Homo sapiens: one gene and its partners. The main gene of each other region encodes a partner of the protein of the gene in region 3 in a complex. Each region holds a gene or a part of one and is shown on either strand. Other genes may lie near its edges.

Evidence for each region.
Region 1: MYBL1 (region 3) and TFDP2 share a complex: the UniProt entries of both Homo sapiens proteins name them as parts of the DREAM complex.
Region 2: MYBL1 (region 3) and LIN54 share a complex: the UniProt entries of both Homo sapiens proteins name them as parts of the DREAM complex.

Annotation. Positions count from the first base shown.
Region 1 is NC_000003.12:142,137,975-142,149,057, reverse strand, and holds part of TFDP2 (transcription factor Dp-2), read left to right. Parts: intron 1-11,083. UniProt on the Homo sapiens protein: Can stimulate E2F-dependent transcription.
Region 2 is NC_000004.12:82,929,239-82,940,321, reverse strand, and holds part of LIN54 (protein lin-54 homolog), read left to right. Parts: intron 1-359; coding exon 360-433; intron 434-585; coding exon 586-783; intron 784-1,817; coding exon 1,818-1,909; intron 1,910-3,023; coding exon 3,024-3,095; intron 3,096-3,940; coding exon 3,941-4,043; intron 4,044-4,203; coding exon 4,204-4,341; intron 4,342-9,176; coding exon 9,177-9,379; intron 9,380-11,083. UniProt on the Homo sapiens protein: Component of the DREAM complex, a multiprotein complex that can both act as a transcription activator or repressor depending on the context. In G0 phase, the complex binds to more than 800 promoters and is required for repression of E2F target genes.
Region 3 is NC_000008.11:66,571,136-66,582,218, reverse strand, and holds part of MYBL1 (myb-related protein A), read left to right. Parts: intron 1-1,852; coding exon 1,853-2,086; intron 2,087-5,828; coding exon of another isoform or gene 5,829-5,843; coding exon 5,844-6,212; intron 6,213-8,712; coding exon 8,713-8,855; intron 8,856-9,622; coding exon 9,623-9,737; intron 9,738-11,083. UniProt on the Homo sapiens protein: Transcription factor that specifically recognizes the sequence 5'-YAAC[GT]G-3'.

The DNA of each region.
Region 1 (11,083 bases), on a different chromosome or scaffold from region 3:
TTTAGACCTGGGTTCTCCAGGCCTGGCCGGGTAACCCGTGAGTGTCTGGGCCAGAGTCGAAAGCAGAGGAGGGTCACCCTCTTAGTGCATAGAGCAAATCGGGGGAGGTAACGTCCCTGAGTCACGCCTCGTGGAAGAGGGGAAGGGCTGCTTTCTACTTTCTCGTTCTCTTCAAAGAAGGATGGCTTCTAAATCTGGTTTTCCGATTTTTCCCTTCTCCTTTCATGACTCACAGGCCTCTGTGTCCACCAGGTGTTTTGTTTGTTTTTAAAGAGTTTCTAAGCTTTGTGTGCTTGGAAGAACCTCATATGCCCCATAAAGGAACTTTTCTCTGAAGTAGAGGATCGCTTTTTGGGCCCAGACTCCTTTGAGAAAATCTGGAAAGCCAAGGTCTGTCTTCACAAAGAAGTGTAAGGGTTTTCCTAGGATCTCGCTGAGAGACAGTACAACGAAGTGGATGAGCGCCCCAGTCTCTCTTACCAGCCTGTGCTATCTCCCATTGTGTGATCTCGGTTTCTTCATCTGTAAATTAGATGCATCCACCTATTCGGTGTGTTTCGGGGAGTGAATGGACTAATGTATGGAATGCAATCGTAAGAAAATCCTCCACGTATTAAATGCCTTGCATTAGTTAGGCACTTTTATTATTGACTGCCATGGATGCTGGTTTAGAAAAAGACCCTATATTATTTCCCTTTTAGTGTTGAGACAGTGAACGGGCTCATTCCTTTTCCATATTCACTGCTGAAGCTGCCTTTGAGCCCATGAATACTTTTATCTTTTCCTCATTCCATCTCAGAGGGCACAGACTCCCTCTCACTTATTTGCTTTCTTTCAGTAAGGCTCTCTTTTAGCTCAGCCTTCTCCTTCCCCTGTCTCCCCGAGATCTGAGTTTTGTGTCTTTTCATTTGACTTGCACAACCTACTTTTTTTTTTTTCTGGGCCATGTGTTTTCTCTTCATGGCTTGAATTTATCTTCACCTAATAAATAATTTACCTGTTTTTTTTTTCAGCTCGTGAATATATATTCATCTATTTTCTATATGGCATAATCATGTCCCTGTCTCTCTTTAAAAGTAGATATAAAAATAGTTTAATTGATCTATATTGCAGCTTCCTTTTCCATTTCATTGTTTAGCCTGTTATTTAGCTAAACTTTATCACTATCAGATTACTGTAATTAATCTTTAATGGCAGTGTCCATTCTCAGACAGCACCAGGAGAAAAATCAAATGCCTAGACCCCAGATTCTGTCACACTTGTGTACTGGCTCTGGATGTGTTTGTTATTTATTAGAACATCTTGTGCCTGTAACTAGTCTAGTCTAAGAGTAGACATGGTGTCTGTAGCGTTGTTCTGGCTGTGCAGTTGCAGTTTGAGCACTGTGGCCCTTACATTTGTTAATAAAAGGTTCAAGACTTACTAAACTCTTACTTTTCAGTTCTCTTCATTTCTAGGTGTTTAAAAAGGAAAGCTGAATTTTTGCAGTGTGTAATACTTCATATTCTCATTTTGTGATCATGTAATTCCTCCCACCCTGACTCTTGTGAATGTGTAGTCCAAGTGGCACATGGAAGTTTTTCTCTGGCAGCTAAAATTCTTAACTGTCTGAGCCGTGTGCCCTCAATATAACTGATGAAGTGGGATGTACTTCCTTGTCATCATCTTTTAAACTCTTATTGCAATATGTGTTATAATGGATCTCAGAAGAAACTAGAAGGCATAGATTGAGAGTTCTTTTAGATCATAGAATTTTAAATTGTAGTGGATTTTAAAGAGAATCAAATACACTCACCTCTTCATACTTAAATCCTTTCCGTTTTAATCTGGGATACATGACTCTAGGTGTGCGGCATGAATAGATATGAAAGTAGGCTTGTGAACTCTTGGAAATATTATGCAAAATTATGCATATTTGTATATTTTTTGGAGAGACTATTTATAGTGTCATAGTTTCTGAGGCAAAGATATTTGATCAATTCTTTTTTTTTTTTTTTTTGAGACAGGGTTTCTCTATGTTGCTCAGGCTTGTCTGGAACTCCTGGGCTCAAGTGATCCTCCCACCTCACCCTCCCAAGTAGCTGGGGTTATAGGCACACACCTCGCCATGTTTGGACAACTCTAATTTTTATAAAATTATTTCTTTCACTGAACTAGAAATTGTGTCCTCACTGTCTCTTCTGTATTGTGGGTTTTCAACTATTTGAAGATACTTATATTCCACTGAGTGTTAGAAAATATTCTCAGTCTTTAACCTCTGCTAGTGACTTTTGTGTCATTGTTTTCATTCACATCTCCTCACAGAACTCATAGCCCACTTGTGGATTTGTTTAGTTCATCCACATTCTTCTGACAAGCATGGTACCCCAAATTAGGTATTAACTAGTATAGAAGACTAAGTTACCTCTCTAATTTTAAAGCATGTACTTTAAGAGTAGACTTGCTTCTTTGGCAACCACATTACACTGTTACTTTATAATAATTTACTAGTTAAGAAGATTAACTTTGGGGCTAACCTTCCTGTGTTTAGATCCTAGCTCTGCAGTTTATCAGCTGGGTAACCCTGAGTAAGTTATGTAAACACTCTGGGCCTAAGTCTCCTCATCTCTAATATGGGGTTAATAATAGTGTCTATCTTACACAATTCTGAAGATAATTAATATATATATATAAGTCATTTAGAATGGGTTGTGGCATCCCAGTACTATGTATGTATGATACCTATTTTACTATTGGTTTCCTTGTCAACTAAAATTGTTGAATTATTTTGTTCATGCTCTCTCTGTTCTTAAAGTCATACTCTCTCAATTCTTTAATAGAATATTTTTTGGTAGGACTTTACATGTATCTATATTTTTATTTTGTAAGATTGCTTCTAGTCTGTTGACATTAAAAAAATCCTGATTTGGTCATCCAATAAATATCAAATCTATGCATTTGATAAACATACAAGTTTGATAATTTTGGCATTGCTTTCATGCAAATTTTTCACTAAAATGCTGTCTAGGCAGGGCTGAGGTCAGAGTTCTTTACCTGCTAAAGACCTCTCTTAAAGGTGATAAAAAATTTTATTATTAATTCTTTGGTTCAGGTTGGTCACCCAATTAGAAATTCAGCTAATTTTAATCATCATCTACCTCATATGTTTCCAAGTTCTCATAAGGAATATGTGAGGAACTTTGACAGTTGCCTTACTAAAACCCAGATTTTATATGCTTCGTTTTCTTTACCCTATCATTACTTGTCCTTAGTGAAACTATACTATATTCCAGTAGCATATGTTAATTACTACTTTTTTGTCTTTTTTTTCGGAAAAGGATTATTTATTTATTTATTTATTTATTTAGAGACAGAGTCTCTCTCTGTCACCCAGGCTGGAGTGCAGTGGCCTCCTGGATTCAAGCAATTCTCCTTCTCCAGCCTCCCGAGTTGCTGGGTCTGCAGGCGCTTGCCACCATACCCGGCTGATTTTTGTATGAGAAAAGGATTTTTTAATTCAAGTAAAAATGTGGAATGCTTTAAGAATTTGTGTGTCATCATTGCACAGGGGCCATGCTAATCTCTGATTTGTTCCCGTTTAGTATATGTGCTACTAAGGGAGCACTGATTACTACTTTTTCTAAGTGTTCACAAACTTCTCTTAGTAATGATGCTAGAATCATGTCTAAAATTACATCTAACTTCAGTGATCAATAGTTGGCAGGATCCCATTTCTCTTTTTTTGAACACGAGTACTACATTTTTCTGTCTTTAGTCTTCTGGCAACCTCTCCTGCTCACCATAGTTCCTAAATGATTGCCAACAGCTGTGTGGAATTTTATTTGGAGCAATATACCTTGTTGAAGGTTTACTTAGAGTAGTTAGGAACTGTCTTTTATCTTCATGTTCATATTGAGCTTTCATTTCCTCCAGTTCATTGATAAATTTATTAAATGCCCATTTTGCACAAGATATCAATGCTTGTTTTACTTGAGCCATCGGAAGAGAATTTTTCTTAATAAAAATGCCTGAAGCAAAAAGGTAATGTACATCTATTTCTCTCCATTCCTCCTATTGTTAATATTACCGTAGTCTGCCACCATTCCTTCTTTAGTGTACTGCAGTAATAGCTTCCTGTTAACCTTCCTTCTTCCAGTCCTTTTCTGTCTCTGGTCCTTATGTATGGCAGCCAAAGTTATCTTTGTTTTAAAAATGCATGTATGTTTTAAAAGTCGTTTCTGGGAGGTGCAGTGACTCACGCCTATAATCCCAGTGCTTTGGGAGGCCGAGGTGGGCGGATTGCTGAGCCCAGGAGCTCAAGACCAGCCTGGGCAACATGGTGAAACCTGTCTCTACTAAAAATACAAAAAGTAGTCAGGCTTGGTGGCATGTGCCTATAGTCCCAGGTACTCAGGAGGCTGAGGTGGGAGGATCTCTTGAGCCCAGGAAGTCAAGGCTGCATTGAGCTGTGATCGTGCCACTGCACTCCAGCCTGGGCAACAGAGTGAGACCCTATCTCTAAATAAATAAATAAATAAATAGGAATAAATAAATAACTAAGTATTTTCTTTCCTAGTGGCATAAGCTGTAATCTAATTAGAATTTGATTTCTGAGCATAGTACTTTCCAACTCCCTTTTTCTGTTTCCTCTTTACTGTCCTTTTAAATTCAAACCCCTCCACCCCTGCTGCCCCGCTTTTTTTTTTTTTGAGACAGAGCCTTGCTCTATTGCCCAGGCTGGCAGTGGTGCAATCTCGGCTCACTGCAACCTCCACCTCCTGGGTTCAAGTGATTCTTGTGCCTCAACCTCCCAAGTAGCTGGGATTATAGGCATGTGCCACCACACCTGGCTAATTTTTGTATTTTTAATAGAGACAGGGTTTTGCCATTTTGGCCAGGATGGTCTTGAACTCCTAACCTCAAGCAATCCACCTCTCTTGGCCTCCCAAAGTGCTGGGATTACAGATGTGAGCCATCGTGCCTGGCCATAGATCTCATTCTTTTTTATGGCCAAATAGTACTTCATTGTATGTATGTACCACATTTTCTTTATTCATTCATCTGTTAACGAACACTTAGGTTGCTTCCAAATCTTAGCTATTGTAAACAGTGCTGCAACAAACATAGGAATGCAGATATCTCTTCAATATACTGATTTCCTTTCTTTTGGCTATATACCCAGCAGTGGGATTGCTGGATCATATGGTAGCTCAATTTTTAGTGTTTTGAGGAACGTCCAAATTGTTCTCTGTAGTGGTTGTACTAATTTACGTTCCCATCAACAGTTTGAGAAGGTTCCCTTCTCTGCACATCCCCACCAGTATTTGTTACTGTCTGTCTTTTGGATATAAGCCATTTTAACTGGGGTGAAATGATAGCTCATTGTAGTTTTGATATGCATTTCTTCGATGATCAGCAATGTTGAGCACCTTTTCGAATGACTATTTGCCATTTGTATGTCTTCTATTGAGAAATGTCTATTCAGATCTTTTGCTCATTTTTTAATGGGATTATTTGATTTTTTTCCTAGAGTTGCTTGAGCTCTTTATATATTCTGGTTATAAATCTCTTGTCAGATAGGTAGTTTGCAAATGTTTTCTCCCATTCTTTGGGTTGTCTCTTCACTTTGTTGATTGTATCCTTTGCTGTGCAGAAACTTTTTACTTGATGTGATCCCATTTGTTTATTTTTGCTTTGGTTGCCTGTGCTTGTGGGGTACTGCTCAAGAAATTCTTGCCCAGACCAATGTCCTGGAGATTTTCCCCAATATTTTCTTCTAGTAGTTTCACAGTTTAAGGTCTTAGATTTAAGTCTTTAATCCATTTTGATTTGATTTTTTTTTTTAGACAGGGTCTTGCTCTGTTGCCCAGGCTGGAGTGCAGTGGCTTGATACCAGCTCACTGCAACCTCAGCCTCCCAGGTTCAAGCAGTTCTTGTGCCTCAGCCACCCAAGTAGCTGGGACTACAGGCATGTGCCACCATGCCTGGCTAATTTTTGTATTTTTAGTAGAGATGGGGTTTCACCATGTTGGCCAGACTGGTCTTGAACTCCTGACCTCAAGTGATCTGCTCGCCTTGGCCTCCCAAAGTGCTGGGATTACAGGCGTGAGCCACCTTGCCCAGGCTGATTTGATTTTTGTGTATGGCAAGTGATATGGGTCTGGTTTTTTTCTTCTGCATTTGCATATCCAGTTTTCCCAGCACCATCTATTGAAGAGACTGTCTTTTCCCCAGTGTGTGTTCTTGGCATCTTTGTGGAAAATGAGTTAACTGTAGGTGTGTGGATTTGTTTCTGGATTCTCTGTTCTGTCCATTGGTCTGTGTGTCTGTTTTTATTCCAGTCCCATGCTGTTTTGGTTACTATAGCTCTGTAGTATAATTGAAGTCAGGTAATGTGATTCCTCCAGTTTTGTTCTTTTTGCTCAAGATAGCTTTGGCTATTCTGGGTCTTTTGTGGTTCCATATAAATCTTAGGATGGTTTTTTCTATTTCTGTGAAGCATGTCATTGCCATTTTGATAGGGATTGCCTTGAATCTGTAGATTGCTTTGATAGCAGTATTGACATTTTAACAATATTGATTCTTTCAATCCATGAACATGGAATATTTTTCCATTTTTTTGGTGTCCTCTTCAATTTCTTTGATCAGTGTTTTATAGTTTTCATTACAGAGATCTTTCACTTCTTTGGTTATTACCTAGTTATTCAATTTTATGTGTGGCTGTTGTAAATGGAGTTACTTTTAAAATTTCTTTTTCACATTGTTCACTGTTGGCATATGGAAATGCTACTGATTTTTGTATGTTGATTTTGTATCATGTAACTTTACTGAATTTGTTTATCACTTCTATTAATAATACTTTTCTTGTGGAGTCTTTAGGTTTTTCCAAATATAAAATTGCATCATCTGCAAACAGGGATAATTTGACTTCTTCCTTTCCAATTTGGGTGCCCTTTATATCTTTCTGTTGTCTGATTGCTCTAGATAGGACTTCCAGTACTTTGTTGAATAACAGTAGTGACAGTGGGCATGCTTGTCATGTTTCAGATCTTTGAGGAAAGGCTTTCTAGTTTTTCCCCATTCAGTATGATACTAGCTGTGGGTCTGTCATATATGGCTTTTATTATGTTGGGGTGTGTTCCTTCTATCCCCAGTTTTTTGAGTATCTTAACTTCTTTGCAACATAAATATTTTATTTAAGACCTATATGTCCTTTTGCAACATATTTCATGCTCTTTTGACTTTTTTTTTTTCTTGAGACAGAGTCTTGCTCTGTCACCCAGGCTGGAGTGCAGTGGCATGATATCGGCTCACTGCAACCTCCGACTCCCGGGTTCAAGTGATTCTTGTGCCTCAGCCTCCCAAGTAGCTGGGATAACAGGTATGTGCCACCATGCCTGGCTAATATTTGTATTTTTAATAGAGACAGGGTTTTGCCATGTTAGCCAGGCTAGTCTTGAACTCCTGGCCTCAACTGATCTGCTGCCTCAGCCTCCCAAAGTGCTGGATTACAAACTTAACCCACCACACCTGGCCTATGTTCTTTTGACTTTAAAAGAAATTAAATAGATCTTCGTTCAAGATGGCCGAATAGGAACAGCTCCAGTCTGCAGCTCCCAGCGTGATTGATGCAGAAGATGGGTGATTTCTGCATTTCCAACTGAGGTACCTGGTTCATCTCATTGGGACTGGTTGGACCGTGGGTGCAGCCCACAGAGGGTGAGCCGAAGCAGGGAAGGGCGTCACTTCACCCAGGAAGCACAAGGGATCAGAAGATTTCCCTTTCCTAGTCAAGGGAAGCCGTGACAGACTGTACCTGGAAAAATGGGACGCTCTCGTCCAAATACTGGACTTTCCCCATGGTCTTAGCAACTGGCAGACCAGGAGATTCTCTCCCGTGCCTGGCTTGGCGGGCCCCACATCCGTGGAGCCTTGCTCACTGCTAGCGAAGTAGTCTGAGATGGACCTGTGAGGCTGCAGCCGGGTTGGGGGAGGGGTGTCCGCCATTGCTGAGGCTTGAGTAGGTAAACAAAGCGGCCAGGAAGCTCAAACTGGGCGGAGCCTACCTCAGCTCAGCAAGGCCTACTGCCTCTATAGACTCCACCTCTGTGGGCAGGGCATAGCAGAACAAAAGGCAGCAGAAACTTCTGCAGACTTAAACATCTCTGACAGCAGTGGTTCTCCCAGCATGGTGTTTGAGCTCTGAGAATGGACAGTCAGCCTCCTCAAGGGGTCCCTGACACCCGTGTAGCCTAACTGGGAGACACCTCCCAGTAGGGGGCGACAGACACCTCATACAGGTGGGTGCCCCCCTGGGACGAAGCTTCCAGAGGAAGGATCAGGCAGCAATAATTGCTGTTCTGAAATATTTGCTGTTCTGCAGCCTCTGCTGCTGATACCCAGGCAAACGGGGTCTGGAGTGGACCTCCAGCAAACTCCAACAGACCTGCAGCTGAAGGACCTGACTGTTAGAAGGAAAACTAACAAACAGAAAGGAATAGCATCAACATCAACAAAAAGGACATCCACACCAAAACCCCATCTGTAGGTCACCAACATCAAAGACCAAAGGTAGATAAAACCACAAAGATGGGGAGAAACCAGAGCAGAAAAGCTGAGAATTCTAAAAACCAGAGTGCCTCTTCTCCTCCAAAGGATTGCAGCTCCTCGTCAGCAACGGCATAAAGCTGGACGGAGAATGACTTTGATGAGTTGACAGAAGCAGGCTTCAGAAGGTTGGTAATAACAAACTTCTCTGAGCTAAAGAAGCATGTTCTAACCCATCGCAAGGAAGCTAAAAACCTTGAAAAAAGGTTATGGCTAACTAGAATAAACAGTGTAGAGGAGACCTTAAATGACCTGATGGAGCTGAAAACCATGGCATGAGAACTTCGTGAGGCATGCACAAGCTTCAAAGGCCGATTTGATCAAGTGGAAGAAAGGATATCAGTGATTAAAGATCAAATTAATGAAATAAAGCGAGAAGACAAGTTTAGCGAAAAAAGAGTAAAAAGAAATGAACAAAGCCTCCAGGAAATATGGGACTATGTGAAAAGACCAAATCTGTGTTTGATTGGTGTACCTGAAAGTGACGGGGACAATGGAACCAAGTTGGAAAACACTCTTCAGGGTATTATCCAGGAGAACTTCCCCAACCTAGCAAGGTAGGCCAACATTGAAATTCAGGAAATACAGAGAACACCACAAAGATACTCCTGAGAAGAGCAACCCCAAGATACATAACTGTCAGATTCACCAACGTTGAAATGAAAGAAAAAGTGTTAAGGACAGCCAGAGAGAAACATCAGGTTACCCAAAAAGGGAAGCCCATCAGACTAACAGCGGATCTCTCGGCAGAAACCCTACAAGCCAGAAGAGAGTGGGGGCCATTATTCAACATTCTTAAAGAAAATAATTTTCAACCCAGAATCTCATATCCAGCCAAACTAAGCTTCATAAGTGAAGGAGAAATAAAATCCTTTATAGACAGACAAATGCTGAGAGATTTTTTCACCACCAGGCCTGCCTTACAAGAACTCCTGAAGGAAGTGCTAAACGTAGAAAGGAACAATCGGTACCAGCCACTGCAAAAACATGCCAAATTTTAAAGACCATGAATGCTATGAAGAAACTGTATCAATTAACAGGCAAAATAACCAGCTAACATCATAATGACAGGATCAAATCCACACATAACAATATTAACCTTAAATGTAAATGGGCTAAATGCCCCCAATTAAAAGACACAGACTGGCAAATTGGATAAAGAGTCAAGACCCATCAGTGTGCTATATTCAGGAGACCCATCTCACATGCAGAGACACACATGGGCTCAAAATAAAGGGATGGTGGAAGATCTACCAAGCAGATGGAAAGCAAAAAAAAGCAGGGGTTGCAATCCTAGTCTCTGATAAAACAGACTTTAAACCAACAAAGATCAAAAGAGACAAAGAAGGCCATTACGCAGTGGTACAGGGATCAATTCAACAAGAAGAGCTAACTATCCTAAATGTATATGCACCCAATATAGGAGCACCCAGATTCATAAAGCAAGTCCTTAGAGACCTACAAAGAGACTTAGACTCCCACACAATAATAATGAGAGACTTTAACATCCCAATGTCAATATTAGATCAACGAGACAGAAGACTAACAAAGATATCCAGGACTTGAACTCAGTTCTGCACCAAGTGGACCTAGTAGACATCTACAGAACTCTCCACCCCGAATCAACAGAATATACATTCTTCTCAGCACCATATCACACTTATTCTAAAATTGACCACATAATTGGAAGTAAAGCACTCCTCAGCAAATGTAGAATAACAGAAATCACAACAAATTGTCTCTCAGACCACAGTGCAATCAAATTAGAACTCAGGATTAAGAAACTCACTCAAAACCTCACAATTACGTGGAAACTGAACAACCTCCTCCTGAATGACTACTGGGTACATAATGAAATGAAGGCAGAAATAAAGATGTTCTTTGAAACCAATGAGAACAAAGACACAATGTACCAGAATCTCTGGGACACATTTAAAGCAGTGTAGAGGGAAATTTATAGCACTAAATGCCCACAAGAGAAAGCAGGAAAGATCTAAAATTGACACCCTAACATCACAATTAAAAGAACTAGAGAAGCAAGAGCAAACACATTCAAAAGCTAGCGGAAGGCAAGAAATAACTAAGATCAGAGCAGAACTGAAGGAGATAGAGACACAAAAAACTCTTCAAAAAATCAATGAATCCAGGAGTTGGTTTTTTTGAAAAGATCAACAAAATTGATAGACCGCTAGCAAGACTAATAAAGAGGAGAGAAGAATCAAGTAGATGCAATAAAAAATGATAAAGGGGATATCACCACCAATCCCACAGAAATACAAACTACCATCAGAGAATACTATAAACACCTCTACGCAAATAAACTAGAAAATCTAGGAGAAATGGATAAATTCCTGGACACATACACCCTCCCAAGACTAAACCAGGAAGAAGTTGAATCTCTGAATAGACCAATATCAGGCTCTGAAATTGAGGCAATAATTAATAGCCTACCAACCAAAAAAATTCCAGGACCAGACAGATTCACAGCCAAATTCTA
Region 2 (11,083 bases), on a different chromosome or scaffold from region 3:
TACTCAAGCTTATGAATGACAGTTCTTTTATTTATACATTTCATTTGACTGGATTTAGTACTGAATGTATAAATCATCTGAATACAGATTGAAGTATTTTCATTTGAATGTCTTGAACCTACAAATATTCCCTCACAAAGTGGATAGACTGTAGCCACCTTAGATATAAGTTCTCTGGTAGATGGGGTAAGCAATTTTGAAAGGTAACTATCCTGATTAAAGATTGCTCAAATTAGGAATCAAATGGAATTCTTTAAGCTCTTTTATGAGAATAACTTGGGAGAGCTAAGTATTCTTAAGTGTTTTAAATACTATTTTCTGTAAATAACTTGTTCATCCTTCTTTTGTTTTTTAAAAAGCAAAGCCAGTGGTTGTTAATACAACCCCAGTGCGGATGTCAGTTCCAATTGTCTCAGCTCAGGCTGTCAAACAAGTAAGTATCACATAACTTCTTTCTCAGTCTTTCCCAAATAGACGATTTACTTTTTAAATAGAAAGTTAAGATTTAGGTGCAAGAGATTTATACTGAATTGAACAGCTGTAAAATTTATTTTGTGGTCATTGATATATGTCCCTTCTTTTTAGGTTGTTCCAAAACCAATCAATCCAACTTCACAAATAGTAACTACTAGCCAGCCACAGCAACGGCTTATCATGCCTGCCACACCACTGCCACAGATCCAGCCCAACCTCACTAACCTGCCACCAGGCACTGTCCTGGCACCAGCTCCGGGAACAGGGAATGTGGGTTATGCAGTGCTTCCAGCTCAGTATGTTACTCAGGTATGTGGAAAAAATGAAGTCATTGTATTGCAAAAGTGATAATGGGGTCCAAGATGTCTAGTGCTATCACAGAAGCTACTCAAACACATCTAACTCAGTATTGAAGTGGCACTTTCCAAAATCTTAAAATGTTAACCCAAACCTTTAAGTTTATTTCTATGTACTTTTAGCATTTAGAAATATATAACACAGGTCAGATATACAAGTCAGACAATTTGGAGCTGAGAGCAGCTTGGCAGGAGCGCAAGCCTGTGGCGATATGATAGAAAATAGACTGAAGTTAAAATCAGCAGAGTCCAAATGAATTTAGAAAAGACTGTGGCTGTTATAAAGCTCTTCCTCACACATAAATTTGATGCCACTGACTTGGAAAATAAGCCCAAGTTTATTTATTGGAAAATAAACTGTGAGATGCATTTCCAGGTGACATATCTTCAGCGATCTATCTACTCTTACTGGTCATCTTTAGAATGAAAGACGGGGAAACAAACCCACACGTGTACTTTTTAATGAAATACACTTTGGAACATGTTATGTGGCTATTGATAAAAAGAATAATGTTCAGTATTTTTGTCATAAGCATTTCTAATGTTTAGAAGTTGGTGTAAAATAGAAACTCAACTATTGTGCATGTAACTTCTCATTCTCTGTAATTTGTAGTGTGATAAATGATCAGTATAGTACCTATTTTATTTGTAAGTAGGCACATTGCATTTTTCTAGCCCAAACAAGTTATTACAGTACTTTGAGAGCATTCATCTAGCATTTCCTATCATTCCGACATACTTAACTCTTCTGTGAAATACTTTCTTTATATTTGTACTATGTAGTACTGTAAAATGTTCACATTATTTTCACCTATAGTATTGGTTTGAGTCTTTAAAAGAGCTCTGTGAAGTATGTGTTTGTGTGATATTCTCCATTGTGTTTTTCTTATCTTAATGGATGAATTTGTATTTCTTACTGATCATCATACCTGACAGTATTGTCCATTTTTGGAAATATGATCTAAAATTAATTTTCTTTACATGTAGCTACAGCAGTCTTCATATGTATCAATAGCAAGCAACTCTACCTTTACTGGAACATCTGGTATCCAGACCCAGGCACGGCTTCCATTCAATGGGTGAGTATTTTGAAAATAGGTACATAAGTTGTTAGATCAGCTTAAATGCAACAGTAAATATATATATTCCAAACTACATCCTCTTTTATTTTTTTCCCCTTAAAGCCATGTGAGCATGCCTCTAAAATACTTGTTGAAATATTTCAAACAGAAAAATTACAGAAATAGTCAATTCCCAAATACTCTATTCAGATTCACCAATTTCACTACACTAGTTTTATTATTCTCTTTCATTCTGAGTATGTTTCCAAAATGATGATGCTAACTATTTTTTATCTTTATTTTTCAAGACAAGGTCTTGCTCTGTTGCCCAGGCTGGAGTGCAGTGCTGTGATCTCAGCTCACTGCAACCTCCCAGGCTCAAGCAATCCTCCTGCCTCAGCCTCCTGAGTAGCTGGAACTCTATGCACATGCCACCATGCTCTCCTAATTTTTAAATTTTTTTGTAGAGATGCGGTCTCACTATATTGCCCAGGCTAATCTCCACCTCCTGGGCTCAAGTGATCCTCCTGGCTCAGTCTCCCAGAGTGCTGGGATTCCAGGCTTAAGCCACTGCACCTGCCCAACTATTTTTAAAATTATGTGAGGTCCTCATTTTTTGTTGATGTTTATTTGTTTATCTATTAATTACTGGCTTTTGCAATATCAGCTTAGAAGCCGTGCTTAATTACCCGGAATCAGTCCACATCCCACTTCCATTTCCTCCTCCACACACTCCTTTTCCTCACTGCTTTTTATAATTGAATCCCAAGAGTTTTGAGGCAATCTCAACTTTTGTTTTCTTAGAAGGGACAGTGTTTGTGGAGTGTTCTTTAGCAGCTATTGATAACTTCTTTTAAAAAAATTATTCCATACTTGTCTCTACCTCTTTCATGTTACAACTTGCCTTTGAACCTAGTGTAAATAGAACAACGTAGCAAACTTTTTATTTTAGATGGACACATTTAACATTGGTTAAAGCTTTATTTCTGGAGGGATTTATAGATTGGAGACTTCTCTAATTTTAAATTAGTTTTAGGTCTAATTTTTTAAATTTTAAATTAGTTGTAGCAACTAAATTAATTTTAGTTACTATTAATTGATTAAATGTATATCTTTTTTTCTATCTGTACAGCATAATCCCATCAGAGTCGGCCAGTCGGCCCCGAAAGCCCTGTAATTGTACAAAATCACTGTGTTTGAAATTGTAAGTGTTTTTGCAACTGTTTGCTTATTTAATGTAATTAGAAATGCACTTAAAAGTAAATGGAGTTAACTAAAAATTTTTAGCAGACCAAAGCTCATAAGTCTAAGTAATTTAAATAAACATACAAATGAATGTTTGAACATATATGGCAGTGTAAAAATATTATTTCATTCATCTAGAAAGAAATATTTAGAGTCCTTACCATACATGAATCACTGGAGTAGGGGTTAGGGACATAGCAGCATGAGACAGACATAGCTTCTGCCCTTAATAATAATGTTTGATCTTATTTATGACTTTTGTATTTGGTCTCCTAAGTGATGATACTCTAGGTAGTTTTAAAAGTCACTGAATGGTTAATTTGCTTATTAGCATTAAAAAGACTTGACATGAAATAGTTAAATGAAAAGCATTGGTCTTATTGGGGCATAGAATCCAAAGTACTATTACTATAACTCAGATGAGCCAGTTCAACTATTAGAATATAGCTAGTGTTTTTCCTTTTTCAGAATTTTGAAATGCCTTACTTTGGGGGCACATAAAATTTATATGTGTGACATATAATTTATATAATTTATATGTGTGACAGCTCTTGTGTGACAGCTGTTATTGGTTGGACTAAGTTTTTAGGCCACATTTCTAGTACTTGGTGATTTAAACTTTGAGCCTTAGTATGTGGTTGACAATATGTGTTGTTAACTCTTTAACTGGGTAGCTGAGTAGATTTCTGAGATGCTTTACCACATATGTAGTATGTGTACAATATATATACAATGTATGCATAATCAGATAATTAGTTTTCCTTAATAATGACTTTTTACCTTATACTGACTTTTACCTTTCAGGTATTGTGATTGCTTTGCAAATGGTGAATTTTGCAACAACTGCAATTGTACTAATTGTTACAACAATTTGGAACATGAAAATGAAAGGCAAAAAGCAATAAAGGTGATTATTTTTTATTTCATTTAACTGACAGAAATATCCAGTTTCATCAGTTTTATAAAACTCAATTGTCTTGCAAAGAAACGTTATCAATTCCTTTTGCAGTGTTTAAATTTCATCTACTGTGATTTAACTCTAACTGATATTTGATCTGTTTTGCTAGGCATGCCTTGACAGAAATCCAGAAGCCTTTAAGCCTAAGATAGGGAAAGGAAAGGAGGGAGAATCTGATCGACGTCATAGCAAAGGGTGTAATTGCAAACGATCAGGATGTCTTAAAAACTACTGTGAATGCTATGAGGTGAGATGCTGGGTGCGGAAAATAATATCTTTTAAAAACAGTTTTAGAAAGGACCTACTACAAAAATTTACTTGAAAATTGGGAAATCACCTTGCTATTGCAATTTGAAAATATGCACAGTTGGTGCAAAGGCCCTTGTTTTAGGAAGGCCTTCGAGCCTCTGTAGCAGGGCTTCGGAGGAATACCTTGGGTTTATTATTACAGCTTGGGGTCTTACTGGGTGATTTACCATAACTTCTTGGTCATTATGCTCAGAAAGTATGCAGATCAGAACACCAATATATTGATTTTCAATAAAAATAATATCAAAGTGGATTGGAAACTCTCCAGCAGTGATTCTCACCTGAGGTGCAGTTCTACTTACTGTTCTTCACAGGCTTCTTAGAAATATATGGCCGGGTGCGGTGGCTCACACCTGTAATCCCAGCACTTTGGGAGGCAGAGGCGGGCAGATCACTTGAGGTCAGGAGTTCGAGACCTGCCTGGTCAACATGGTGAAACCCCGTCTGTACTAAAATACAAAAATTAGCCGGGCATGGTGGCAGGTGCCTGTAATCCCAGCTACTCGGGAGGCTGAGGCACGAGAATCGCTTGAACCCAGGAGGTGGAGATTGCAGTGAGCCGAGATCATGGCACTGCACTCCAGCTTGGGCAACAGAGCAAGACTCTGTCTCAAATATATAAATATATATTATAAATATATAAATATATATATATATATGGATACAAAATAGCCTGCATCCCAAGGTACAGTCTGGAAATTAAAGGATTATCTTGACCAAAATGCTGGTTATGCCCACTCAAAGAGCACACTGCTCTGCGGAAAACCAAAGTATGTTAAGTTTGCTTTGTGAGCATAAAAATAGGAAAGGGGGATCTGGCATTCTGCTGGATGAGGTTACTGGTCACGGTAGGCAATTGTCTCCATTTTCACTGTTTTGTTGTTCCACTGAGCTGGTTATTTTTACTTATGGGTCAGGCGTCTTCTCTGGAAGATGTAGTTGAAACTCTGCTCTGACAAATGCCATATAAATCTTCCCCTTCTTGCTTTAGACACAGTACTATATAGTTTTATTTTAGAAGCTTATGTGTAACAATCTAGTGATTGAGATTAACCCTAGATTACCATAATTGGTTTCTTGGTATGCCTGAAACTCTTTACTGACAGTCTTTTGGGTGGTTGAGTTATTCCTCTTCTTGGCTCTTCTCATACTCTCATATATTTTCATTCTTTCTTATTCTCAGAGAATTAATTAATTAATTAGTTTATTTATTTATTGGCAGAAAGCCTAGCTTTGCACTTGCTGAAGGTTTGCCCTGCCACAGGAGCATGTCCTCCAGTTCAGTGCCCTCTCCCATACAGCATGTGTCATATGAAAGATTTTGTGTATTGCATTCTCTGTGTAATGAATTCTTTCCTAATCTACTTATTTACAAAGTCAAATACTCCTCTCAGGAAGTAAAGTAGAATAGGGAATAGGAGAGTAACATCTTGTGAGTTCTGCAGATGATATGAATGAAAATTGCATAAAGAGACAAGTTTTTTGTTGTTGTTGTTGTTGTTATTTTGTTTTTGAGACGGAGTCTCGCCCTGTCGCCCAGGCTGGAGTGCAGTGGTGCGATCTTGGCTCACTGTAATATCCGTCTCCTGGGTTCAAGCGATTCTCCTGCCTCAGCTTCCCAAGTAGGTGGGATTACAGGCACCTGCCACCATGCCCAGGTAATTTTTGTATTTTTTGTTTTTAGTAGAGACAGGGTTTCACCACGTTGGCCCGGTTGCTCTCAAACTCAAGTGATCCGCCCACCCATCAGCCTCCCAAAATGTTGGGATTACAGGCATGAGCCACCGTCGCAAGTTGATTTTTTAAACTGTCTTAACATCTCAAAATCCAACAAGCCAGTTTTCATCCAGTGTTGGAATCTTTTTTAGTCTTTCTTCTTTTGAATACCTGATGAAATAGCCGGCTTGCGTTTAGAAGCCATATCATACAAAAATTGTCACGAATATGTAAAAATTAACACTTCTTTTCAGAACATGGAAATTTATGTAAAGTTGGATCAGAAGGGTAAAGCGACCCTTTCATGTATATGGCATTGAAAAATCAATACATGCTGGGCATATGAAATTCAGACATATAGGAACTAACCATTTAATTGAACTGGTTAACAACCTGTGAATTAATAGAAGTAGAAAAGGTACTGGACTGGTTTAAAAGTGTTAGAAGAGACAGCCCTACCCTACCTATTCTAATGAAATTTTGTCGGGACAGATACACTGTCTAGTAACAAATTTATCATTCCAAAAGTTATGTACCAAAAAATGGAGAAACTTAGAATATACTAAACTATGAATAGCAGTGGCTAGTTGGCTGTAAATTAGCTGTGGGCTTATCTGACATTTTGTGTTGAACTGTTCTTTTGACACCTTGTTCTTCAGCTGAATTGGCTTTTTAATCCTGTTGGTTTGCATCTGGACAACACATTCATGTGTCCTTTCAATGCCTATAGGCTTGTTGATTGGATGAATGGCTACCCACCTTATTTCATGGCTGTGTCTTTTCTTGTGACCATTTTCCTCCCCTCCACATCTTTTTTTTTTTTGGTATAGGGGAAGTTAAATTCGCCAAGCTAAATGTCATTGTAATTTCTCCATCTGAGCTCCGGTTAGACACTATTAATGTCTTTCCTATGGTTCTTAAAATATAAAGATAATTTTTAAAAAACAAATATATATATATATATAAAATCTAAATTACCATTATTGGTATGTTTTCCCCACTCTGAGGTCAGGAATTTTCTCTCGTCATCACTAGATGCTTATTAAGTATTGCTTTAGTTAGATTCCCATTCAGGCTCACAGTAACCCAGTTAACACAAACTTACATCCATTTTTTCCTTTGGTAAGTGGAATTTATTGGTGTCTTATAAGAAAGGAGCAGAGTAAATGTGTTTATAATGCAGCCCGTTTATCTTGCTAGGTGCTATAGAGAGAAAGGACAGTTTTATTTATTTATATAGACATGGGTTCATTGAAGAAAACACAGCTAACAAAAACATACTCAAATTCGTTAGAAATCAGGGAAATATACATTAAAGAACAGTGAAATCTCACTTTATCATCCCCACCATCAGATTATATATATATATATTTTTTTGAGATGGTGTTTCATTCTTATTGCCTAGGCTGGAGTGCAATCGCGTGATCGCGGCTCACTGCAACCTCCGCCTCCCGGGTTCAAGCGATTCTCCTGCCTCAGCCTCTCGAGTAGCTGAGATTACAGGCATGTGCCACCATGCCTGGCTAATTTTTTTTTTTTTTTTTTAAAGAGAGATGGGGTTTCTCCATGTTGGTCAGGCTGGTCTTGAACTCCGGACCTCAGGTGATCCTCCCACCTCGGCCTCCCAAAGTGCTGGGATTTCAGGCGTGAGCCACCGCGCCTGGCATAAAATGTTAAAAGGAATTATAATATTCATTGTTGGAGGGAATGTGGGAAAGCCTTCCTTTACACATTGCTGATGAGATGTGAGGTATTACAGCCTTTTGAAAAAGCAATCTGGCTACATCTCTTAAAATTCAAATACACAGGCCAGGCGCGGTGGCTCACATCTGTAATCCCAGCACTTTGGGAGGCCGAGGCGGGTGAATCACGAGGTCAGGAGGTCGGGACCATCCTGGCTAACACGGTGAAACCCCGTCTCTACTAAAAATACAAAAAAAATTAGCCGGGCGTGGTGGCGGGTGCCTGTAGTCCCAGCTACTCGGGAGGCTGAGGCAAGAGAATGGCGTGAACCTGGGAGGCGGAGCTTGCAGTGAGCTGAGATCGCGCCACTGCACTCCAGCCTGGGAGACAGAGCGAGACTCCATCTCAAAAAAAAAAAAAAAAAAAATTAAAATACACAGACCTGTTAACCAGTGAGCCCAATTCTAGAAATCTAACTCAGAGAAATAAAAAGGCATAATGTATAACAAAAAAGTCTTTTTATGCATCATTTGTGGTACCCAAGAACTGGAAACAAAAATAAACACCCATCAATAGGGAAATGAATGCCCAATAAAATTGACACATCATACCAGGGATTTACACCTAGCTGTTAAATAGAATGAATTCAAGCTATGCCAGATGACTTTGGAGGGATTCCATGAGTTGTAAGAAAAGCAAGATGCAGAAAAGCAGATAATATGATTTTGAAAAACTAAAAAATGAAAGTTCTATATTTGTATATACATAAGGTCTAGGATTTTATATATACTTACATTTGACATATTTTTACATGAAAATATATATTTATATGAAATGTAAAATACACACTAGTTTCATATGGGTTATTGAAGGGTTTGGGGAATCTGAAGTCCCTCCCGAACTCCCTCTTCAGATTAAAAATAGCATAATAGAATAATAAAAATGGCATCTGTGAAATCCCTTTAATGTGAAATTGTATACATATGCATAAATGGGAGGTCATCTATATGTTAATGATGATTTGATTGAGGTGGCTGGATTCTGGATGACCTTTATTTTTGATATTTTAGGATATCATTCATGTTTATGAAAAACATGTGTAACTCATATCTGAAGAAAATCTATATTCATAGTGGGGGAAAACTGACATGGAAGGACACAGCCACAAACGTTGTACAGCCACTGTCAGACTTAAGAATACCTAACCTAGCTAGCCACATGTGTAGTTACTGTTTGTCAGCCAGAGATACTTCCATCTAATCTTATTATCAGTTGACCAGGTAATGCTATTAGCTGTTGATTTGATTGTGGCATCTACTTATAGTAATGTATTTTGGTTTTGATTTGGAAACTTTTCTTATGTAAATCTTTTAGGCAAAAATAATGTGTTCCTCAATATGCAAATGTATTGGCTGTAAGAATTTTGAAGAAAGCCCGGAAAGGAAGACATTGATGCATTTGGCAGATGCAGCTGAAGTAAGGGTACAGCAACAAACAGCAGCCAAGACGAAGTTATCCTCTCAAATTTCAGACTTGCTTACTAGGCCAACACCAGCTTTAAATAGTGGAGGCGGAAAGTAAGTCAGTATTTTAATCTTTTTATAGTACTTCCCAAATACTTTTGGTAAAGTTTCTTTTCAGGGGGCAAAGTTGAGTTTATATTTTTGGTTGTTGCAAACCTGATTTTTGTGTTTTCTTTCCATCTTTAGTTACTTGTAAAGGAATTTAAAGGTAACAGAAACCACTGTCAGATTATTGTGCAGTTCGAAAATGCACAGTAATGATTTAGTCCACTGTGCTTAATTTCTGTCTACTAAGATGAGGTAATTATGTAATTTGAGGAACCCCAAAGAAAAGCAGATGTTCATATGTCTCGCTGAACGTGTAATTATGTTTTTGCATTTTCCTACCTTCTCTTGCCTTTTCCATTTCTTGGAGCACTTTTCCCATCCTATTGGACCACCCATCACACTGTAATAGTGCAGCTCCGTATTGTTATCTCTTTCATCTGCTGAGCTCTGGAGTAGAAAAGCCTGACCTCTAAAGTCAGGTAGACTTGAGTTTATACTATCTGTGCTACTTAGTAGTTTGTGAATCTCTTTGAGCCTCAGTTTTCTTATCCTTAAAATAGCCTATACCAGGTGGCTGTGAGGAATAAGGCATGTCTATAATATCTCCAGTGTTTGTCAAGACCTGATAAAACATAGTTTGTGATTTGGACTGGACTGGACTGGTATTAGAAAGTTTGTTAGAGGTTAATCTGAGGAATTATTAAATGGAATGAGCCTTGCAAATGGCATATTATTTAAAATGCCTAAGTAGGCCAGGCACAGTGGCTCACGCCTATAATCCCAGCACTTTGGGAGGCCAAGGTGGGCAGATCACCTGAGGTCAGGAGTTTGAGACTAGCCTGGCCAACATGGTGAAACCCCATCTCTACTAAAAATACAAAAAATTAGCTGGGCATGGTGGTGTGCGCCTGTAATCCCAGCTACTTGGGAGGCTGACGCAGGAGAATCGCTTGAGCCTGGGAGGCAGAGGTTGCAGTGAGCCAAGATCACGCAATTGCACTCCAGCTTGGGCAACAAGAGCAAACTCCGTCTCAAAAATAAAATGCCTAAACTGAAAATGAGATCCAGTGCTTATAAAAATAAGGCTTTTTTGTACAAAATATTTAAGATATTAGTTTTGGTTTTTTGTTTTGTTTTCTTTTTGAGATAGAGTCTCACTCTGTTGCCCAGGCTGGTGTGCAGTGTCATGATCTCAGCTCACTGCAATCTCCGCCTCCTGGGTTTAAGCAATTCTCCTGCCTCAGCCTCCTAAGTAGCTGGGATTACAGGCATACACCACGACGCCCAGCTAAATTTATGTATTTTTGGTAGAGATGAGGTCTCACTATGTTGGCCAGCCTGGTCTTGAACGCCTGACCTCAGGTGATCTGCCCATCTCAGTCTCCCAAAGTGCTGGGATTACAGGCATGAGCTACCATGCCTGGCCTTAAGATATTAGTTCTAAAGAACTCTTGACTGGAATATAAACAGCAAATGGTTTTTGACTGAATAAAGTGGAAGTGGTCAGGCACCTTAATAAGACTTATAACCTGGGATTCTTTCTGGTCTTTAGAGTATTGAATCTAATCTCCACATGGAGATTAAAGATACTGCTACAGTAAAATATTTATAATTAATTTTTAAAATTGGGAAGATGTTAACAATATGAAAACAAAATTATAAAATTATAATTATAATCAAAATTACATATTAAAAACTTGTATAAAAAAA
Region 3 (11,083 bases):
CTTAATCTGTTTACATTCAGGGTTATTACTGATATGTGAAGACTTACTCTTTTCATTTTGTTAATTATTTTCTGTTTTTGTGTATTCTTTGTTCCTTTCTTCCTCTCTTAATGTTTATTATTGCAGTTTGGTGGTTTTCTGTAGTACAGTGGTTTGATTATTTTATCTTTCTCCTTTGTGTACCTGCTCTACTAGTGAATTTTATACTTTTACATATTTTCATAATAGTGTCTGTTATCTTTTTGCTTTCAGGTATAGGACTTTTTTGAGCACTTCTTGTAAGGCTGATCTAGTGGTGATGAATTCCCACCATTTAAAAAGAAAAAGTCTGGGAAAGACTTTATTTCTCCCTCATTTCTGAAGGATAGCTTTGCTGGGTATTCTTGGCAGGCATTTTTCTTTTTTCAGTGCTTCTCAAATATATCATTTCATTCTCTTCTGGCCTGTAAGATTTTTTCAAATAAATCTGCTGTTATCTAATAAAGATTTCCATATATGGGATGTAATACTTTTACTTTGCAGTTTTTATTTTTAATTTTCTTTTGATAAGGGTCTCACTCTGTCAGCCAGGCTGGAGTGTGGTGGTGTGATCACAGTTTGCTGCAGCCTTGACTTCCTGGGTTCAAGTGATGCCCTCACCTCAGCCTCTCGAGTTCTGGGACTACAGGCGCATGGTACCATGCCCAGCTAATTTTTGTATTTTTTGTAGAGATGGGGTTTCGTTATGTTGGCCAAACTGTTCTCAAACTCCTGGGCTCAAGCAATCTGCCTGCCTTGACTTCCCAAAGTGCTGGGACTATGTGCGTGAGCCACCGTACCTGTTCTCTCTTGCTATTTTTAGAATTCTGTCTTTGAATTTTGACAATTTGTAAGTCACAAAGTTTATGGTAACATACAGGAGAGGTGCTTGATTTAGATTGTTGTCATCAGGGAAGGGTTCCTAGAAGTCCTAAGTGAACTCAGCCTTGAAGGACAATGATTATATATTAGCAAGATAAATGAATTAGGACATTATTATAAATGAAGCAGATAAAAGTGTATAATCAGATGAAGTACTTTCCAGTATTTGAACTGTGTCTTAAGAATAGCTTCCCTTTGGGAGGCTGAGGTGGGCGGATCACCTGAGGTCAGGAGTTTGAGACCAGCCTGGCCAACATGGTGAAACCCTGTCTCTACTAAAAATACAAAAAATTAACCGGGTGTGGTGATGGGTACCTGTAATCCCAGCTACCCGGGAGGCTGAGGCAGGAGAATTGCTTGAACCCAGGAGGTGGAAGTTGCAGTGAGCCGAGAGAGCACCGCTGTACCCCAGCCTGGGCAACTGAGTGAAAACTCCAATCTCAGAAAAAAAAAAAAAAAAGAAGAGCTTCCCTGGTCAGTAGGTTACAGAGCATTTTATTAATAGATAGAGGGAGCAGCAATATGTGCAAAGGCACTCCAGGTCAAAAGAGTATATAATTCACTGGGGAATTGCAAGTGCTATAGTTGGGTATTTCTGATAACTACCAGGAATAAATAGATACACATGATAAGGTTTAAATATATAGCTCTTGAGTAGAAGTGTTGAGAAATGAAGTTTGGAAGGAAGGGAGTAGCCAGATTCTAAGAGTTTGGACTTTATGTTGTATGTAAATGCTTGTTTTATCTCATCATGATTGTATAGATTAAAAATTTTAATTAGAAAAAAGAAACATAGTCAAAGCATGAAGTTTAATGAAAAAAGTATACCAATTTTGAGGAAAGACAAAATATTTGCTACTATGTTTTTAGCCTAATTGAAATGTGTTGAAATCTGAATTTATGCCTACATTGAGAATGACAAATAATATTCAAATTTCTTTTGTACCTTTAGCAGCCTGGAAGTTTTTCTAGCTGGTCTGGTAGTTTCCTCATGGATGATAACATGTCTAATACTCTAAATAGCCTTGACGAGCACACTAGTGAGTTTTACAGTATGGATGAAAATCAGCCTGTGTCTGCTCAGCAGAATTCACCCACAAAGTTCCTGGCCGTGGAGGCAAACGCTGTGTTATCCTCTTTGCAGACCATCCCAGAATTTGCAGAGACTCTAGAACTTATTGAATCTGTAAGTAAAAAATTGTAAGATTATCAAAAGTTCAATTTTAGTTATATGATTTCATGCTCAGAAACTCAGTTTTGGACATTGACCAGTTTTATGTTTTGTATGCCATGCTTAATTTTGTTCTGATATTTTGCAGTGGCTTCTAGGGGAAAAAAGTTTAAATTTTTCTCAAGTATGTGCCTTGTGAGGAATTTTTAAAAATTAAAAACTTAATTCATTTTTTATTATATAAGTTATACAAGTGCATTAGAGAAAGCTGGAAACTAGAGAAAACTATAAAAAAGAAAATTAAAGTCCTTCATAAACCCAGAGTTAATAATTTGATGTATTCCTTTCAGTCTGTGTTCTATACTCAGAAAACATTATATTTTTAAACCCAAAAATACACTTCTGTATTATATTTGTGGATTTTTTTTTGTTTTCCACCCTGTCATGAGCATGTTTCTGTTTCCTTTTTTAAACTTGATTTTTTTTTTTTTAAGATGGCATCTCACTCTGTCGCCCAGGCTGGAGTGTAGTGGTGCAATCTCAGTTCACTGCAACCTGTGCCTCCTGGGTTCAAGCGATTCTCCTGCCTCAGCCTTCTGAGTAGCTGGGATTACAGGTGCCTGCCACCACACCCAGCTAATTTTTATATTTTTAGTGGAGATGGGGTTTCATCATGTTGGCCAGGCTGGTCTTGAACTCCTGACCTCAAGTGATCCTCCCACCTCGGCCTCCCAAAGTGCTGGGATTACAGGCATGAGCCACCATGCCTGGCCTAAATTTGAATTTTAGGGGCTTTGTAGTATTCCATCAAATGAATATAAGAAAATATATTTACCCAACTATTATTATTGGACATTTAGGTAGTGTCTACTTTTTCATTTTTTTAAAAAAAATTTTTTTTTAATTTTTTTATTATTATTATACTTTAAGTTTTAGGGTACATGTGCACAATATGCAGGTTAGTTACATATGTATACGTGTGCCATGCTGGTGTGCTGCACCCATTAACTCGTCATTTAGCATTAGGTATATCTCCTAATGCTATCCCTCCCCACTCCCCCCATCCCACAACAGTCCCCAGAGTGTGATGTTCCCCTTCCTGTGTCCATATGTTCTCATTGTTCAATTCCCATTTATGAGTGAGAACATGCAGTGTTTGGTTTTCTGTCCTTGCGATAGTTTACTGAGAATGATGATTTCCAATTTCATCCATGTCCCTACAAAGGACATGAACTCATCCTTTTTTATGGCTGCATAGTATTCCATGGTATATATGTGCCACATTTTCTTAATCCAGTCTATCATTGTTGGACATTTGGGTTGGTTCCAAGTCTTTGCTATTGTGAATAGTGCCTCAATAAACATATGTGTGCATGTGTCTTTATAGCAGCATGATTTATAGTCCTTTGGGTATATACCCAGTAATGGGATGGCTGGGTCAAATGGTATTTCTATTCTAGATCCCTGAGGAATCGCCACACTGACTTCCGCAATAGTTGAACTAGTTTACAGTCCCACCAACAGTGTAAAAGTGTTCCTATTTCTCCACATCCTCTCCAGCACCTGTTGTTTCCTGACTTTTTAATGATTGCCATTCTAACTGGTGTGAGATGGTATCTCATTGTGGTTTTGATTTGCATTTCTCTGATGGCCAGTGATGATGAGCATTTTTTCAAGTGTCTTTTGGCTGCATAAATGTCTTCTTTTGAGAAGTGTCTGTTGATATCCTTTGCCCACTTTTTGATAGGGTTGTTTGTTTTTTTCTTGTAAATTTGTTTGAGTTCATTGTAGATTCTGGATATTAGCCCTTTGTCAGATGAGTAGGTTGCGAAAATTTTCTCCCATTTTGTAGGTTGCCTGTTCACTCTGATGGTAGTTTCTTTTGCTGTGCAGAAGCTCTTTAGTTTAATTAGATCCCATTTGTCAATTTTGTCTTTTGTTGCCATTGCTTTTGGTGTTTTAGACATGAAGTCCTTGTCCATGCCTATGTCCTGAATGGTAATGCCTAGGTTTTCTTCTCGGGTTTTTATGGTTTTAGGTCTAACGTTTAAGTCTTTAATCCATCTTGAATTAATTTTTGTATAAGGTGTAAGGAAGGGATCCAGTTTCAGCTTTCTGCATATGGCTAGCCAGTTTTCCCAGCACCATTTATTAAATAGGGAATCCTTTCCCCATTGCTTGTTTTTCTCATGTTTGTCAAAGATCAGATAGTTGTAGATAACGCGGCATTATTTCTGAGGGCTCTGTTCTGTTCCATTGATCTATATCTCTGTTTTGGTACCAGTACCATGCTGTTTTGGTTACTGTAGCCTTGTAGTATAGTTTGAAATCAGGTAGCATGATGCCTCCAGCTTTGTTCTTTTGGCTTAGGATTGACTTGGTGATGTGGGCTCTTTTTTGGTTCCATATGAACTTTAAAGTAGTTTTTTCCAATTCTGTGAAGAAAGTCATTGGTAGCTTGATGGGGATGGCACTGAATCTATAAATTACCTTGGGCAGTATGGCCATTTTCACGATATTGATTCTTCCTACCCATGAGCATGGAATGTTCTTCCATTTGTTTGTATCCTCTTTTATTTCATTGAGCAGTAGTTTGTAGTTCTCCTTGAAGAGGTCCTTCACGTCCCTTGTAAGCTGGATTCCTAAGTATTTTATTCTCTTTGAAGCAATTGTGAATGGGAGTTCACTCATGATTTGGCTCTCTGTTTGTCTGTTATTGGTGTATAAGAATGCTTGTGATTTTTGTACATTGATTTTGTATCCTGAGACTTTGCTGAAGTTGCTTATCAGCTTAAGGAGATTTTGGGCTGAGACAATGGGGTTTTCTAGATATACAATCATGTCATCTGCAAACAGGGACAATTTGACTTCCTCTTTTCCTAATTGAATACCCTTTATTTCCTTCTCCTGCCTGATTGCCCTGGCCAGAACTTCCAACACTATGTTGAATAGGAGTGGTGAGAGAGGGCATCCCTGTCTTGTGCCAGTTTTCAAAGGGAATGCTTCCAGTTTTCGCCCATTCAGTATGATATTGGCTGTGGGTTTGTCATAGATAGCTCTTATTATTTTGAGATACGTCCCATCAATACCTAATTTATTGAGAGTTTTTAGCATGAAGGGTTGTTGAATTTTGTCAAAGGCCTTTTCCGCATCTATTGAGATAATCATGTGGTTTTTGTCTTTGGTTTTGTTTATATGCTGGATTACATTTATTGATTTGCGTATATTGAACCAGCCTTGCATCCCAGGGATGAAGCCTGCTTGATCATGGTGGATAAGCTTAGTGTCTACTTTTTCAGTACTACAGATAACATATAAAGCTTTGTGCAAAATCATGATTATGTCTTTAGGTTAAATTGAATTTCTGGATCAAAGTATATCACCATTTTTAACACGTTCCATACACATTACCAAATGATTATGCAGAATTTGATGGTGTCTTCCTGATGTGCAGTAGAATGTGAAGTTTTATGACGAAATATACTTTTTGATAATAACTTAATTTTTGATAATAACTTATCATTTGTTCTTAAAGTACTTTGACAGTAAGCTTCAACTACTGAATTAGATGAACTATTATGTATTTTGGAATCATAGGAAAGCCATAATCTGTTCCTCTTAAATGGTCTTGCTTAAAAAAAATGTCCAAGGAAAGCATTTTTACTGATAAAATGAGTTGTTAATTAACTCTGTGGAAATCATCATCCTGTGTTCAAGAGCAGATTTAACTAGGTTACAGCATTAACTTTATTAACAGTTTAATTTATTGCAGGATCCTGTAGCATGGAGTGACGTTACCAGTTTTGATATTTCTGATGCTGCTGCTTCTCCTATCAAATCCACCCCAGTTAAATTAATGAGAATTCAGCACAATGAAGGAGCCATGGAATGCCAATTTAACGTCAGTCTTGTACTTGAAGGGAAAAAAAACACTTGTAATGGTGGCAACAGTGAAGCTGTTCCTTTAACATCCCCAAATATAGCCAAGTTTAGCACTCCACCAGCCATCCTCAGAAAGAAGAGAAAAATGCGAGTGGGTCATTCCCCAGGCAGCGAACTTAGGGATGGCTCATTGAACGATGGTGGTAATATGGCGCTAAAACATACACCACTGAAAACACTACCATTTTCTCCTTCACAGGTAGTGGTGTTCATTTTGTTTATGTTTCTAAATGTCAATGAGTTACATTAAATTAGATCTTTAACATCCTTACTAGCAGTTGGTAGCTTTGATAACATATAAAAATAATGTGTTTAAATGTATACTTGAGAATACTGAACTCTGAGAGAATAGAAAGTATCTCACAAAATGTAGTAGCTGCAAATATTTATTTATTTATTTATTTATTTATATTTTGGAGACAGGGACTCACTTTGTTGCCGAGGTTGGAGTGCAGTGGCACAAACACGGCTCACCGCAACCTCAACCACCGAGGCTCAAGTGATCTTCCCGCCTCAGCCCCCCAAGTAGCCTGGACTATAGATGCGTGCCACCACACCTAGCTAATTTTTGTATTTTTTGTAGAGATGGGGTTTTACCATGTTGCCCAAGCTGGTCTTGAACTCCTGAGCTCAAGTAATCCACCTGCCTTGGCTCCCAAAGTGTTGGGATTACAGGCGTGAGCCACTGCTCCCGGTTCTACATGATATTATACTACAGTTTTTAGAGGGACATTTTCTTTATCTTGTAGTCCCATATCTTTATAGAACTCATCAGAAAACAAGCCCGGAAAGGTAACATTGATTTGCCCAAAGTTATCTAATGCAAGGCTGAGACTAAGATCCGGTTTCCTGACTGACTACTGTTCGATAGATATACCTGATAAAGATTAAAGTGGCCTTACCTATTTAGAGTAATTTGTTTAGTTTGCCCACTGAGGTTTTTCCTTTTAATGTTCTTTGGAAGAAACTTAGATAATTGCTTACTGTAAGAATTTAATGTGTCAAGAGGTTTCCTAAGGATGTCTAGAACTACCTACTTACTTTCTCCTCTTGTAATATCCCTGGACAGTAGATGTTTATGTTAGGACAGTTTCCTATTGAACACTTGCTATGCTCCAGGCTGTTTGCCAAACGCTTTTTTTTTTTTCTTTGAGATGGAGTTTTGCTCTTGTTGCCCAGGCTGGGGTGCAATGGCACCATCTCGGCTCACCGCAACCTCCGCCTCCCGGGTTCAAGTGATTCTCCTGGCTCAGCCTCCCGAGTAGCTGGGATTACAGGCATGTGCCACCACGCCCGGCTAATTTTGTATTTTTAGTAAAGACAGAGTTTCTCCATGTTGGTCAGGCTGGTCTTGAACTCCCAACCTTAGGTGATCTGCCCGCCTCGGCCTCCCAAAGTGCTGGGATTACAGGCGTGAGCCACTGCTCCCAGCCTCCAAACAATCTTCTTATAGCATCTCAGTTAATGCTCTTTCAAAAGGAGTTAGGTGGAATAAAATTCTGAAGTTGAGCCACTTGTCAAAGGCAACAGTTAGTAAGAGATGAAGCTGATGTTTTCTGAAAGTGTTTGGCAGAGGCTACAAAGTTTAAGGAGGAAGAAGGGAGTTTAATGGTCAAACAAACATGGAGAATGCTGGGATATTATTGGAGGTATATTTTGAGGCTGGGGAGATAAGCAGGATCTGGCAGAACACAGATCTCTAAAAATTGTGCACCCATGCTTCAGGGGATGCCATTTCTGTAGACTACAATGTGAATAGTCTGTTCACTCCCAGCCCTGCTCTCAGAGTTAAAAAGCACTGGAGAAAGTGAAGTAGGCTTGGGCATACTAGCAGTTTTCTATTCTGGAGTTTTGCATGCTAGCAATTTTTGTTGAAGTGTGAATTCTAAGGTAGAAGTGGCTGAAAGATGCTTATTTCCCATGGCAAACTGCTTGGATTTTATCGTGTAAAAGAGGGTTTGATTACTAATCTTAGGGTAAAATAAATTCAAGTATTCAGAGCCAGAAGTGACAGAGCTAGACTTCATTCTAGTTATAAGTAGCTTTGAAGCCATTTCTATGGCTTCATATCACTGTTTCTAATCTTTTGACTGCAAAAATAAATTAGTATTTCACAATTGTAAATTATATAATTTAGAAAATGGACTCTGTTATGCCAGTTTTGACTGCTTAGAGGTTCTGTTCTGTGTTCTAGATAGGCAAATTTGCCAGACAGCTGTATTTCTTATCAGCAAAGCATTATTATTATATTCTAAATTAAAATACTCTCATAGAAAAAGCCACTTAAGGTCATTTATTAATAAGAGCTAAAAAACTTGTTTTTTCAGTTACACACTGTTGTACAAAACTGTTACATTTAACACAGCAGCTGTTTATGGTTTCTATAGATCTCTATTTGATAATATACTGTTTTTTAAATTTTTAGTATTTTTTTTGTAACTTTTGAATATTTGTTAAATGTTTCTTGAATTCCTATATGTGCTAAACACTGTTCTAAGAGCTGGGGAGACAAAAATGAACAAACCAGACAAAAATTCCTACCCTCATGGAGCATAATTTCCATGGAGTATAAGTGTAATATTATTCATAAGCTTTTTTTAAGAGGTATGAAGAAATAATTTGAAAATCTTATCAGTTTAATATTTGTGTAGGGATTTTGATGTTCTAGAAGTCGTCTTTAAACTCTCTTCCCTTTCTAGTTTTTCAACACATGTCCTGGTAATGAACAACTTAATATAGAAAATCCTTCATTTACATCAACCCCTATTTGTGGGCAGAAAGCTCTCATTACAACTCCTCTTCATAAGGAAACAACTCCCAAAGATCAAAAGGAAAATGTAGGGTAAGTAGGTATTAAATAATTGTGTTAGAGAAAATGGGGAGCACAGTGTTAAAGTAGATTAGCTTTTTGTGCATATAAATAGCAAGTATCATAATTCCTATTCCTACAGGACTTAGAATTTTTTTTGTTTTGTTTTGTTTTGTTTGTTTGAGATGGAATTTTGCTCTCGTTGCCCAGGCTGGAATGCAATGGTGAGATCTCGGCTCACTGCAACCTCTGCCTCCCGGGTTCAAGTGATTCTCCTGCCTCAGCCACCCGAGTAGCTGGGATTACAGGCATGTGCCACCATGCCTGGTTAATATTGTGTATGTAGTAGAGATGGGGTTTCACTATGTTGGCCAGGCTGGTCTTGGACTTCTGACCTCAGGTGATCTGCCCATCTCAGCCTCCCAAAGTGCTGGGATTATAGGTGTGAGCCACTGTGGCCGGCCAGAATTTTTTTTTTAAATCATAACCTTATGTTTTCTCCTTAGGACAGTGAAAACCAACTGAAATATAGTGTCAAACTTTGATTTCAATCATTTCTAGTACTTTTTCAAACATTTCTAGTACTTTTTTCTATATTAATTCTTTTTTTCTATTTTAAGATGATTGATTGAAATCAGAATTACCATAGGTGGGCATACTTTAAAATAGTCTTAGAATGTTTAAATGAAGCATATATATATGTGTAAGAAAATTTAGCGTGTGCTTAAATTGCTTTGCTTTCATTAACTTGTATGAAATCAGATCGTGACTATAACATAAATATCTAAATGACTGGATAGGTTTAGAACACCTACTATTAGAAGATCTATACTGGGTACCACACCAAGAACTCCTACTCCTTTTAAGAATGCGCTTGCTGCTCAGGAGAAAAAATATGGACCTCTTAAAATTGTGGTATGTATATTCATTTTATTTTTAATAATTTTCCTAATTTTAATAAAACACAAATTATGATTTTTATCACTTTGATTTTTAACATTTAAAAAAAGATATTTACTGAAACAGATACAAAGCTTTATCTTTTGATTTTCAAGGTTTTTTTTTTGTTTTTTTTTTGAGACGGAGTCTTACTTTGTCGCCCAGGCTAGAGTGAAGTGGCGCGATCTCAGCTCACTGTAACCTCCACCCCCTGGGTTCAAGTGATCCTCATGCCTCAGCCTCCTTAGTAGCTGGTATTACAGGTGCCCGCCACCACACCCAGCTAATTTTTGTATTTTTAGTAGAGATGGGGTTTCACCACATTGGCCAGCCTGGTCTTGAACTCCTGACCTCAGGTGATCCACCCCCCTCCCCCCCACCTCGGCCTCCCAAAGTGCTAGGATTACAAGCGTGAGCCACCACACCTGGCCTAATTTTCAAGTTTGAATTTGTGTTCACCTTTTTCTTTAACTTGTAAATAAACCCTTGCTTGGCTTGTTTTGAATTCTTAACTTTATAGCATCTAGAGAAAACATCAGGTGTCAGTGGAACTCTTTTCCTTTTTCCTTTTTTTTTTTTTTGAGACGCAGTCTTGCTCTGTCACCAGGATGGAGTGCAGTGGCTCATTCTTGGCTCACTGCAACCTCCGCCTCCTGGGTTCAGGTGATTCTCCCCCAGCCTCCTGAGTAGCTTGGACTACAGGCTTGCGCCACCACGCCCAGCTAATTTTTGTATTTTTAGTAGAAATGGGGTTTCACCATGTTGGCCAGGATGGTCTCGATCTCCTGACCTCGTGATCCACCCACCTTCGGCCTCCCAAAGTGCTGGGATTACAGGAGTGAGCCACTGCGCCCTGTCGGAACACTTTTCTTAATACTGAAATATACATTTTAGTAGTTTCAGTCATGGTTACATGTATTAGAATAAAATAATTTTAATATTTTGATATACTGAAGCACTTTCATGATAATATTTAGGAAACTAATCAGGGTACCTCTTTAGGAAACTAATTAGGAAAAGGCTCAGTTTCCTTTTCTATGCAAAGGAGATCATAAAACACACCCCAAATTGTTATTGTGAAGCTGAAAGAGATGATGTAATTAAAGGGGCTTGTCTGAGTTTCAAGTACTGTGTGCTTGGTTGCTGCTATTATTCTAATAATAGTATTTGTGGTAGTAGTTCACGAATGAATAGGACTGGGAAGTGTTCTAGTTACTGTGCTTTCATATATCTTACCACCTTTGAAATACCTTGGAACAGTGATGGGCATTTTAGGCAGATACAGATTTCTGACAAGTTCTTTAGAAATACGATTTTTAAAA